Regions from separate parts of the Homo sapiens genome. Here region 1 is linked to region 2. The links come from fine-mapping of genetic effects on gene expression. A gene starts in region 2. The other region holds a variant in brackets. All regions are shown on one strand. Distances are from middle to middle.

Region 1 (5,384 bases), 230 kb after region 2:
CTCGCCTTGGTCTCCCAAAGTGCTGAGATTTCAGGTGTGAGCCACCGCGCTCAGCCCCTGACGTGAGTTTCGGCAGAGCTCTGCATGCTCCCTCCTGCCCAGCTCTCTCCAGGGTTCCTCCTTCACCATACTCAGGCTCACAGAGGCCTTCCCCTACCACTCTGTGGTCTGGCACAACAGGAATTGAGCTGCACTTTGAAGAATGAGGAATGGTGACAGAAAAGTAGAGCAGATGCAGTGGTAGAGATCAATCACTAAAGAAATCTCGGGCAAAATCTAGGTGTAAATTTGGAAGGGGTCCCTCTGCATCTGCTTGTCCCCAAATGGGGGGCACAGTGGGCATTCTTGCTGAAAGCAGTTCCCTTTCAACATAGCTGCCTTAGAATAGGTCTATTCTCATGCCTTCCATCAGCTGCCTGGGCAGGGGAAGTGGACTCACCCCACCCCACCAGCCCAATCTGGCCCAGCCCTCCTGGAACTCCAGCCCTGCTCTTCTTATCATTTCAAAGCCCACAAGCAAGTGTCAAACAACTCCACTACCACTTGAATCACCAAATCATTTCTTCCTTTGACACACAGGCACTTTGCAAGTGCCTCATCCTTAAGAAGACATTCATTAATGTGTTCTGAAATTGCCTTTTTTCGATGACTCACTCCTCTAGTCCAACCAATCTAGTTCAAGTCTTAGCAACACGCAATGCTCATTTTCACCCACTTGTATTTGCTCTTTAAAATGCTCCCACATCTTTTTAGATTTAAATTTAATAAGACCAAGATCCCTGTCTTCTATGTTTGTATTTTCTATGATGTCTAACACATGTTCTGAGGCATTTAATAAAATGCCTGCTGACAGAACTGATTCTACTATTTGAGGAGTTGAAAATAGAAACTGGCACTATACTGCTACATTTACAGAAAAATGTTTAATATATTAGATCAGTCATATTCAGACACAAAGAACCACTGAACAGTCTGCTTCCTTAATGAAGTCTTTTGTTTATTAGTTGGCAGTAAAAATGTCAGAAAGAATCAGATTTCATTTTCAATCTTCCTACTTGGGTAACTTCTTTCCTTTTAGGTGAGGGTTTTGAATTTCTTAAAGGAAGAATTTTGGGAAATAACCACAAGTCAAGGAAGCTACATTCCATTAGCAGGAAATAACACAACCTATGTTACAATGTGGTCACACTGGTATTTCTTTTTTTTTTTTTTTGAGATGGAGTTTTGCTCTTGTTGCCCAGGCTGGAGTGCAGTGGTGTGATCTCGGCTCACCGCAACCTCCACGTCCTGGGTTCAAGCGATTCTCCTCCCTCAGCCTCCCGAGTAGCTGGGATTACAGGCATGTGCCACCACGCCTGGCTAATTTTGTATTTTTAGTAGAGACAGGGTTTCTCCATGTTGGTCAGGCTGGTCTCAAACTCCCGACCTCAGGTGATCCACTCGCCTCAGCCTCCCAAAGTGCTGGGATTACAGGCGTGAGCCACCGCGCCCGGCCCACACTAGTATTTCTATATCATCACCTCCAGACCTAGTGTACACAAAGGAGTACTTTTAATGTGACCCTATAAATCAGAGCTATAATTCCACCAATAATCTAGAAAGCTGTTAACAAAGTCTTGATTGTCTTATGTCTCAAAAAGTCTTGATTGTCTTATGTCTCAATATACTGAAACATCACCTGTTCAGATTAAATGAGCAAGAAAATGAAAGACTGGATTGTTTCATTTCCTCACAGACTGTTTTTATTGTTGCCAATAAAAATATAGATATCTGTTCTGATTTGATGAAAAGATCAAAGCAGCATTTGATAATTCTAAAAGTGAGTGGTAAAATACCTCAAAGATTTTAACTGTGTTTATATCTCTTAAAATATTGTTACTCTTAAAATTTTGCTTGATACTTCATTTATTCAGAGTGCAAAGATAATTTCAGTATACAAAATTGAACTGATTACAAATTCATAATCTATCAGAATCTAAGTCATATGTGATATAATCAAATCTCAAAAAATTAGTATTCTCAGTTTAAAATATTGTGATGTTCCCAAGATGCATTTTTGTGTCATTTTAATTTTTGGTGGGGGTGGGAACTTGCTTTTCATTAATCTGAAGACCATAAACTATAATTTGAAATTCACTGATAGGTAGATATTTCTCTTAGATACTAAAGAATATCTAATGACCTCCCAAAGATGGTACATTCACCAATAAAGTATGGCATTACAGAGTATAAATAATGATTAATAAATATTTAGAAACCCAGCAGTGCAAAGAAAGAGAACACATGTTAGATGACTTTCCACAGTCACCCCAGAACCTCTCTACAATTAAGGTAATGGTAGAAATATAAAATTTTGATGTCCAGCCTACTAGGATTATAAAGCCTGTGTCAACAGTACCATCTGTTTACGCAGAAGAATGTATGCTCACAATTCATAAGAATTACAGCAACATATGTAATTTTGAACATCAGAGGTATCATGATAAATAAGACATTTAATCTAACGTTTAGCAAAGATGGAGCAAGCTGGCACTTTGATGGAGTAGAAAAAGAAAGTGAAAAGGCAATCTGCTCATTTTACAGTACAATTCTCTACTCTTTCTGAGTTACTACTAGTACTCTAGGAACAGCTGGGTTTCTTGGTATCAATTTTCTACCTATATGTCAATTATAAACTATTACAAAACTCATGCTAGAATTGTCCATGGGAGTTAGGAACTGCTTAGGACACGCAGTGGTTTCTAACTTTCCTTCACTGGCATCTTCTTCTTCTTTTTTTTTTTTTTTTTTTTTTGAGACGGAGTTTTGCTCTTGTTGCCCAGGCTGGAGTGCAATGGCGTGATCTTGGCTCACTGCATCCTCTGCCCCTCCAGGTTCAAGCAATTCTCCTGCCTCAGCCTCCCAAGTAACTGGGATTACAGGTGCCTGCCACCATGCCCAGCTAATTTTTTGTATTTTTTTTTTTTAATAGAGAC[G/A]GGGTTTCACCATGTTGGCCAGGCTGGTCTTGAACTCCTGACCTCAGGTGATCCGCCCATCTTGGCCTCCCAAAGTGCTGAGATTACAGGCGTGAGCCACTGTGCCTGGCCTTGTTTCTATTTTCAATGTCCTGGGTAGAATGTCTAAGGGATGAAATGGTCTTTGAGTGGGGGAAACTGAACATACCTTATTAAAGGAGAAAGGCAGCAGCCACCCTGTGGCAGAGCAGAGGTAAAGGAAGTCCACTCCTGGCAATGAATCCAGGAATATCTCAATTATGGAAAGCTCACCACGGAGAGCAACAGGGTCACATTACTCTACATTCAGCCAGCAGAAAAAATTTAGAGAGCTTTTCCTACACAGCAATCCACACTCAAGGAAATTCTGTGGACCCGGAGACCCCCCCACACTACCTTCTTATCAGACTGCTCAATTCAATGTATTAACTTGGTTCTTTTGAAATGTGTGAGAGAAAAAAAATAAGTTTGAGCAAGACATCAATGTTAACTTCAGTAATGTGATGGTCACAAAAGAACTGAAATTCTTTTTTAAATTTAAAAAAACAAACCAAGAAGTCAAGAGTCCAAGCCTCTGTCAAGACCTGTAATCCATTCTCCCTCCAAAAGCAGAGTTTTTCAAATGGGGAAAGGTAAGCAAGGGACTGAACTGGCAAAGTGCCAGATGAAACACATTAGAAAGAGTTAGCTAGAACAGTCTCAGGTTGCCATGACCGAGTCCTGGTTTCACGGTACTCTGTTGATCTTCACCACTGTGATATCTAAACCATCTGGCTTTGAATTTACCTTCGACTAACAGCTGCCATGGGCAGCTACTGAAATTACATCACAACAAAGCTACCCCATTAGCGGCATAAACTCATCTTCATACCTTCACAGTGGTGAGTCACATAGTGAAAAACACCCAGAAACAATTCTCTCTAGAGTTGAATGCATGTACCTTGATTCAGTATGTAATACCAGTCATTTATGGATCAATATATCTGCACCACTGCAAAATATATGGAGCAAGAGAGAGGTATAGAACATAAAAACATCGAAGTAATGGAAATGTCATCTTGGCCTTCAAAGCAAAAGAAAGAACAAAATAGTCAGTGGCTGGATGGAACAGGCTTTATGCTGACCAGGAGAATCACACGACTATTCTCCCAACCTTTCTTTCTATAATTCCATACTGTTATTTAGGAGAGACAAATAGTAGCAGCAACCTAATAGGAACACATCCTCTAAAGTGAGTGCAACCATGAATAACCAGAAACTAAATATGATCCTTTTAGACCCATCCATCCTAAAAGTGATATTGCCTCTATAGGAACTTCTTGGCAAAATGTCGTATGAACACTCTAGTCTGAGGGAATCGGGTAAAAGTTCCATTCCAACAATCCGTTCATATTCTCTTCAGAATTTTAGAATATTCCAAATTATTTCAGGATTTTAGAATATTCCAATTCATAAAGTTTTCCTAAAAGGTTAAAAGTAGGCATAAGTATAAATATCAAAGAGATTTATTGTGTCAATTCTTGATCAGATTTCAAAAATAACAGAACAGTATTTAAAGAGAGTAGAAACTATCACCAAAGAAGCCCTTGTACCAAATACACAATCAGTCAAGAAGCACTTCTGTCAGGAAGCCCTGAGGACTTTGACACATATCTAAACATTTTTGTGGCCAAATTATATGGTAGCAACATATACTTAAGGACTAATGAAAACAGCAGCTTCAAATAACTTTAGAAATGAGAAGGACCTTGGTGATCGTCTAACTGAGCTGTCTGCCAAATTCTTAATTTTGTTAATACCTTTACTTAAATACCCTTGGGAGGGAGCACTGATACAAAAAATTATAAAAACAGGAGCTGCTCCTCTTAGGCCTTCTTCATCTCCTCAACCACAACCTGCACTGAGGCTTCCTAAAGCTTGGAGGAAGGCCACTTAACATCAAGGACTGCACTGCAGAGCAAGGTGACTGGAGGCTCAAAGCCAGGGCATAACTTGTCCACAGTCTTGCTTCTGGGATCTTTCAATTGCCATGTTCAAGCAAAGCAACACAATTCTGAAGGAAACGCAGTCTGATCATCTAATTTGAAAGTACTTTCTTCATATTTACACAACCATTCTTTTTAAAATTCACATTTCACAGTATAGCTTGGAGGGAAAAAGTTCAGGCTTATTATTTTACAAATCTTTTACTTAAGGTTTCAAAACAGGGCTGTTGAAGCTCACAGTTGAGGGATGCGCCTCCTGTGTACTTATGGTCTTCTTCACCAGATCTGCTGGTGGAAAGGTGGGCACATTTCAGACCCCACCTCCTCCACACCGGTACTTCCAGGGACAGCAGCACTCTATCCCTCCCTGCAACTACCTCTACACTTGCAGTTCCAGGCCCTGGCA
Region 2 (5,384 bases):
CACGACGAACTGCAGGTCCTGCAGCAGGGAGGGCTGGGCAACCAGAGCTTCTCAAGCTGACTCATGCTCAGCTCCATTACTCTAGGATTCAGTTTCTCCAGTTATAAAAATTATGATAGAGATGGAAAGCAAATTAATTGAATGAAGGATGGTTTTCAAGGGCCCCCACTGCACTTGCACAAGCAACTTTCAAGAACTGCAAGCCATATATCTATAGTTTTATACTCTTTTTCTTAAAGAAAACCCCTAAATTATAAATACACAAGCTTCTGTAAAACCTGCTCTATCCCCAGAATGGCATCCAGCTAGTTCAGGGGCACTAAGGGTTCACATTTTGAGAGAAAGGCTAGAAACCATGCCTGCTCTTCTCTGCTTTTGCCAACTCCTTTCTTTTTCTTTTTTTTCTTTTTCTTTTTTTTTTTTTTTTTTGGCCAACACTAAAGAGTTGGAAATGTTGCTATCAACAGCAAACTAACACCAGATATTTATTAACATGATTCTATTGGAAAAGCCACAGAGCTTTGGGTTACAGTGATGTCTATTATTGATGAAGAGATGAGGAGCTTCCACTGTGAAAAATAAAACTAAGCTCATATAAAATTCAACTTGGCTAATTTGACTTGAAGGTTGCAAAGCTGGAGGAAGCCAGGAAGAGGGAAAAAAAGAACTAGGAAAGGCTATGCAGTCGAGAAAGTTTGGGAGACTGGTCTATAGGGCAGGAGGAAGTCATCCCCTTATCACTGGGCCCCTTTGCTCTATAGAGAAGACACTGCCCAGTACCTGTTGATGTTCTGTGTTGCAACTGAGAGCACAATACAGAAAAGACCCCTGTCTGTGCCGCAAGACTGCATGTTGTGGTATGAAGGGCTTCAATCATTCACCATTCATTCAACAGATGTTTTCGTTAGTGTTGCTAGATGCTGGAGACATTATGTCGAGCAAAACAGATGTGGCCCTGGTGTTCCAGTTTGGAGAAGACACAGCCAAGAAAAGAGGCCAGTGCAATTCAATGTGATGTGTGCTGCAATAGGGCAGATACAGCGTATTAGGGGAGCACAAAGAGAGGCATCTGATCCAGCTCTGGGGAGTCAGGAAAGACTTCTCCAGGAAAGCGGGGATCCATCTGAGACCTGCAAAATGAGCAGGCATTCACCAGAAGAAACGAGAAGCGTGTTTAAGGTAGAACAAAGAGGGAAGCAGTCAATGTTTCTGAAGCATCATGGACCAGGTGTGTGGTGGAGTCATGGGAGAAGGATAGAGTGGGCATTATTTAAGCAGATGCTGGCTCATATCGGCTTTGAAAACCTTAGGAAGGAGTGTAGACTTTATCTCAAAGGTAATAACTTTGTGATATCACCCAGATGTTGTGGGGGAGTGGTCTAGAGGGAAGCAAGGCTGGGGATAAAGAGGCTAGTTAGGAGGCTGTGACAATGGAGGCAAAATGTAATGGGGCCCTGGATGGAAGTTGCAAATGTGGATGGAGAGATGAATAAGGATTCAAAAAATATTTAAGAGGCACAATAGACATGCTTTGATAGTTGGTTAGAAATGCAGTGTAATGTGTCCAAGGAATCTAGGATGACCTCAGACACATTTGACTTGAGCAGTTGGGCAGCCAGATGGTAGAGCCATTTGGAAAGACAGTGACTCCAGAAGGAACAGGTTTAGCACTTGTGAACTGAATTGGCCATTAGGTTAAAAGGAGGCTTCAGAATTCACAGAAGGTCAAGTTGAAAGGCCCAAGAAAAACTGACTTATTAAAGTTACAGAGGTCAGGTCAGAGGAGGAAAAGACAGGAGGTTGAGAAGTTCAATCGAAAAGGCGTTCAGATGAGAAAAGGAGGCTACAAAACCATATGTACAATAAAATACACATGCACATGATAGAAACAAGGAAAAGATGCTAGAGAAATCCATATGAACACATTAGCAGGAATTATTGCCTCATAGTAAGATCACTGGTGATTTGTAATTCCTTCTCTTTGCTTAGCTGTATTTGCAAAACTAAAGGTTGCACAATAAATGTGTGTTCTTTTTGTAATAAAAACAAAAGGTGTTTTTGAAAAGTGGTTATGCAGGTGAGGGAAGAATACGGAAGAGCTTTTCTTTTTTTTTTTTTTTTCAGGCATAGTCTCGCTCTTTTGCCCAGGCTGGGGTGCAGTGGCACCATCTCGGCTCACTGCAACCTCTACCTCCTGGGTTCAAGTGATTCTCCTGCCTCAGCCTCCAGAGTAGCTGGGATTAGAGGCAGGCACCACCATGCAGGGTTAATTTTTGTATTTTTGGTAGAGATGGGGTTGCCATGTTGGTCAGGCTGGTCACTGGTCTTGAACTCCTGACCTCAGGTGGTCTGCCCACTCAGCCTCCCAAAGTGCTGGGACTACAGGCATGAGCCACCCCACCTGGTCTAATACTGAAGGGCTTTTAACTTAAAGTGAAAAACTTAATTGGAAAGGTTTATAAAAGTAAAGCTCGTGGACAACTAACCTGATGTACTGTCTCACAAACTTGGTTGCATATTGAAATCACCTGCACAGTTTCAAAAATACTGTTCCTGGATCCCACGTCCACAGCTTCTGATTTAATTGACAGGAGGTGTGGTCCGAGCCTGGAGATTTTTGTAATGCTCCCCAGGTGATTCCAATGTTGGCAAAGATGGAAAACCACTAATGCAGTTAATGAGAAGGAAGAGGGATAACTTTTTAGACTAGCATTCTGAGTTATTTAAAGGAGTGAGAATCTTGGGGGAGAAGGTTCTCAGTGAGGCCATAAAGCGGGGTCAAAGGTTGGCAGTGAGATGGCACCCCAGGGTCAGGCATGAGGTCCATCCCACAATATGCTCTTAAATGACAACCTAGTGAAGTGAGCTGAGCTCAACCTTAGAAGGACGCTCCAAGAAACTCTGCAAAAAATGGGGACATTTTGCGCATAAGGAAATCTGAGGTCCTGCCAGCTTTGCCGTGGTCAAGAGCACGTAGCAGCTGGTTCCATATTTAAAGGCAAGCGGCTCTCACATCCTAAGGTATTACCCAGCAAAAGGCAGCCTCAGGAGGCAGCCCACTGAAGACCTTCAAGTCCACGAAGACAATGTATGGATTGTTCACTAAAACTGAGGAATGATTTTCAAATAATCTGTCGCCAGAGGGCCAATCCAGGCTTCAGGCTCCAGTGTGTATGGAGGAGCTGCCACTGCAGAGACGCTGGCTTAGGGGGCTGGGGGATGCCTCCTTTGAATTCTGGGCCCACCACTGACAACACTTCTCTTCTTGGGTGAGTTATTTCATTTCACTGACCTCGCTCTCTTTATTTGTGAAAAAGAAGATAGTACTACCTGTTACACAGGTTTCTCAGGATTAAATGAGCTCAGGTTGAGCTCATTGTGAAAGCAGCTATTCGGTTTTTTAAAATGTGATTGCCATTGTTTGAAATAGCAAAAGAGGATATATCACTGTTAAAGTCTGTCTGGACGGCAGTCTTGCTGTATCATTTCCACCTCTTGCGTGACATTTTTTCCTTTCTTATTTAATTTTCTAAATTCTAAAGTACGGCGGCTAGAGCAGACAAACTGTTCTTTTCTTAGTAGATTAATGGCATTGAGTACATAGCCCTTAAAAACATAAAGTTTAAAAGCAAAAGCAATGGCCGGGCGTGGTGGCTCACGCCTGTAATCCCAGCACTTTGGGAGGCCAAGGCTGGCGGATCACTTGAGGTCAGGAGTTCGAGACCAGCCTGGCCAACATGGTGACCCTCCCCCCGCCCCGCCCCGCCCCACCCCACCCCATCTCTATTAAAAATACAAAAATTAGCTGGGCGTGGTGGCATGTGCCTGTAATTCCAGCTACTCAGGAGGCTGAGGCAGAAGAATTGCTTGAATCCAGCAGGCGGAGGTTACAGTGAGCCGAGATCACTCCACTGCACTCCAGCCTGGGTGATAAAGCGAGACTCTGTCTCAAGGAAAGGAAAAAAAAAAAGCAAAAGCAACAAACTCAAAATTTTGTTTTTTAAGTAAAATATCTTGATGTTAGTAATCACCAGAGTGAAGACAATGGTTACTGAAATTTCAACTCTAAGAGAAAAGGCAAAAGGCAATTATAGCAAAGTATGGGCAACTTCCATATATATTTCATTAAATCTGAGATGCCTTTTATTATAAGATATGTTCATTTTCTATATAGTTAAGGAAAAAAATAGTTGCAAATTAAACTATGACACAATGCTTTCTTTCCTGATACAATGTTTTCCATATTGAAAGAGCTCTTTCATATTTATTTAAACATCTCTTGTTACGTGTAGCACTCGACGTATCTAAAAAGGAAAACACAAGTGAAATGAATTGCTTAAGGTGTTCCACAAAACTTCACATTCTCACTCTTCTGAACCACTTTGCAGTCATCAATGCCACACATTTTTTCCAAACCACACAATTAACATCCTCTGGGCTTTCATGTGAACTGGCGATACACTCTCTTATGGTCTCCCGTATTTTTTCAGCCGCTGACATCTGTTTTTACAAGCTTTTTTGCCTAGTGTGTGATAGATGATCCTTTTGTGTATATCGTGGTAACAAACCTAACTCAGCTTTATCTACTTGTGGATATCTTCCCTTCATAAGCCCTATAAAGCTATGCTTCTCAAACTTCCCTGTTCATACAAATCACCTGGGGATCTTGCTAAACAGTAGATATACAACAGGTCTGGGCTAGAGCCTGAGATCCGGCAGTTCTCACAAGCTCCCAGCTGAGGCCAATGCTGCCGGCCCCAGCACTACAGTTTGAGCAGCAAAGCTATAAAGCAATTGATCCTATTGGTTGTTGCTTCTTTGCAAGAAAATATGGAAGTGTGATTATTCCTCCAACAAATGGTTTCACTAATATCAAATTTATGTCTTGCTGCTCTGTTTTCATGCTCTTCTGTATATGCAGTAATTTTTCATTTCAATGCCAAATTGTCACATAATCTTTTTGAAAGCTCTTAAATGGCAGTGAAACTCAACATGTGTAGTGCCAGCACAGCACATAATTCACTGAAGTGTGATGGCGGGGAGTGGAGCTAGGACCAAGCTAGTTGTAGCATACCACCGATTGCAAGCTGTACTCTGATATCAGAGATGCTAAAAAGTGGAGAAGGTGCAGTTTTGGATCAAAGAAATATGGAGAATCTGTTGCAAACCTCTGTACTTTTAGCTTCCACTTTTTTTTTTCCTTTTTAAGAAAATGCTGAAATCAGCATTAGGAATTATGAGAGACAACACTAATAACCCCAGTGTGTTTTGCTGTGTCTGTTTTTAACCTTTTGGCTTCACCTTTGTAACTGGAACACAAGGATGAAAGTTCCTTGGTGTGTGAGTGTTGGTGATATGTGCCTTTACAACTGACTCCACAGCGG

Alleles and levels. Positions count from the first base shown, and alleles are read on the strand shown. Sizes are in standard deviations (SD) of each study's normalised expression.
For the expression in minor salivary gland of the gene that starts at base 2,995 in region 2, A is the high allele of the variant in region 1 and G is the other (large effect, 1.2 SD a copy in GTEx).

The links. PIP is the estimated chance that this variant, and not a neighbour inherited with it, causes the effect.
Region 1: its variant is fine-mapped to the expression of PKP4-AS1 in minor salivary gland (GTEx, PIP above 0.99).

The regions. Positions count from the first base shown.
Region 1 is chr2:158,505,777-158,511,160 of GRCh38, reverse strand. The region is part of intron 1 of PKP4 (plakophilin 4); the gene reads right to left. Among named protein-coding and RNA genes, the nearest start is that of PKP4, 52 kb to the right of the region's middle. The variant G/A (reference allele first, on the strand shown) is at 2,976.
Region 2 is chr2:158,732,613-158,737,996 of GRCh38, reverse strand. PKP4-AS1 (PKP4 antisense RNA 1) reads left to right here and starts at 2,995. Exons shown (of 4, transcript NR_135242.1): 1 at 2,995-3,269.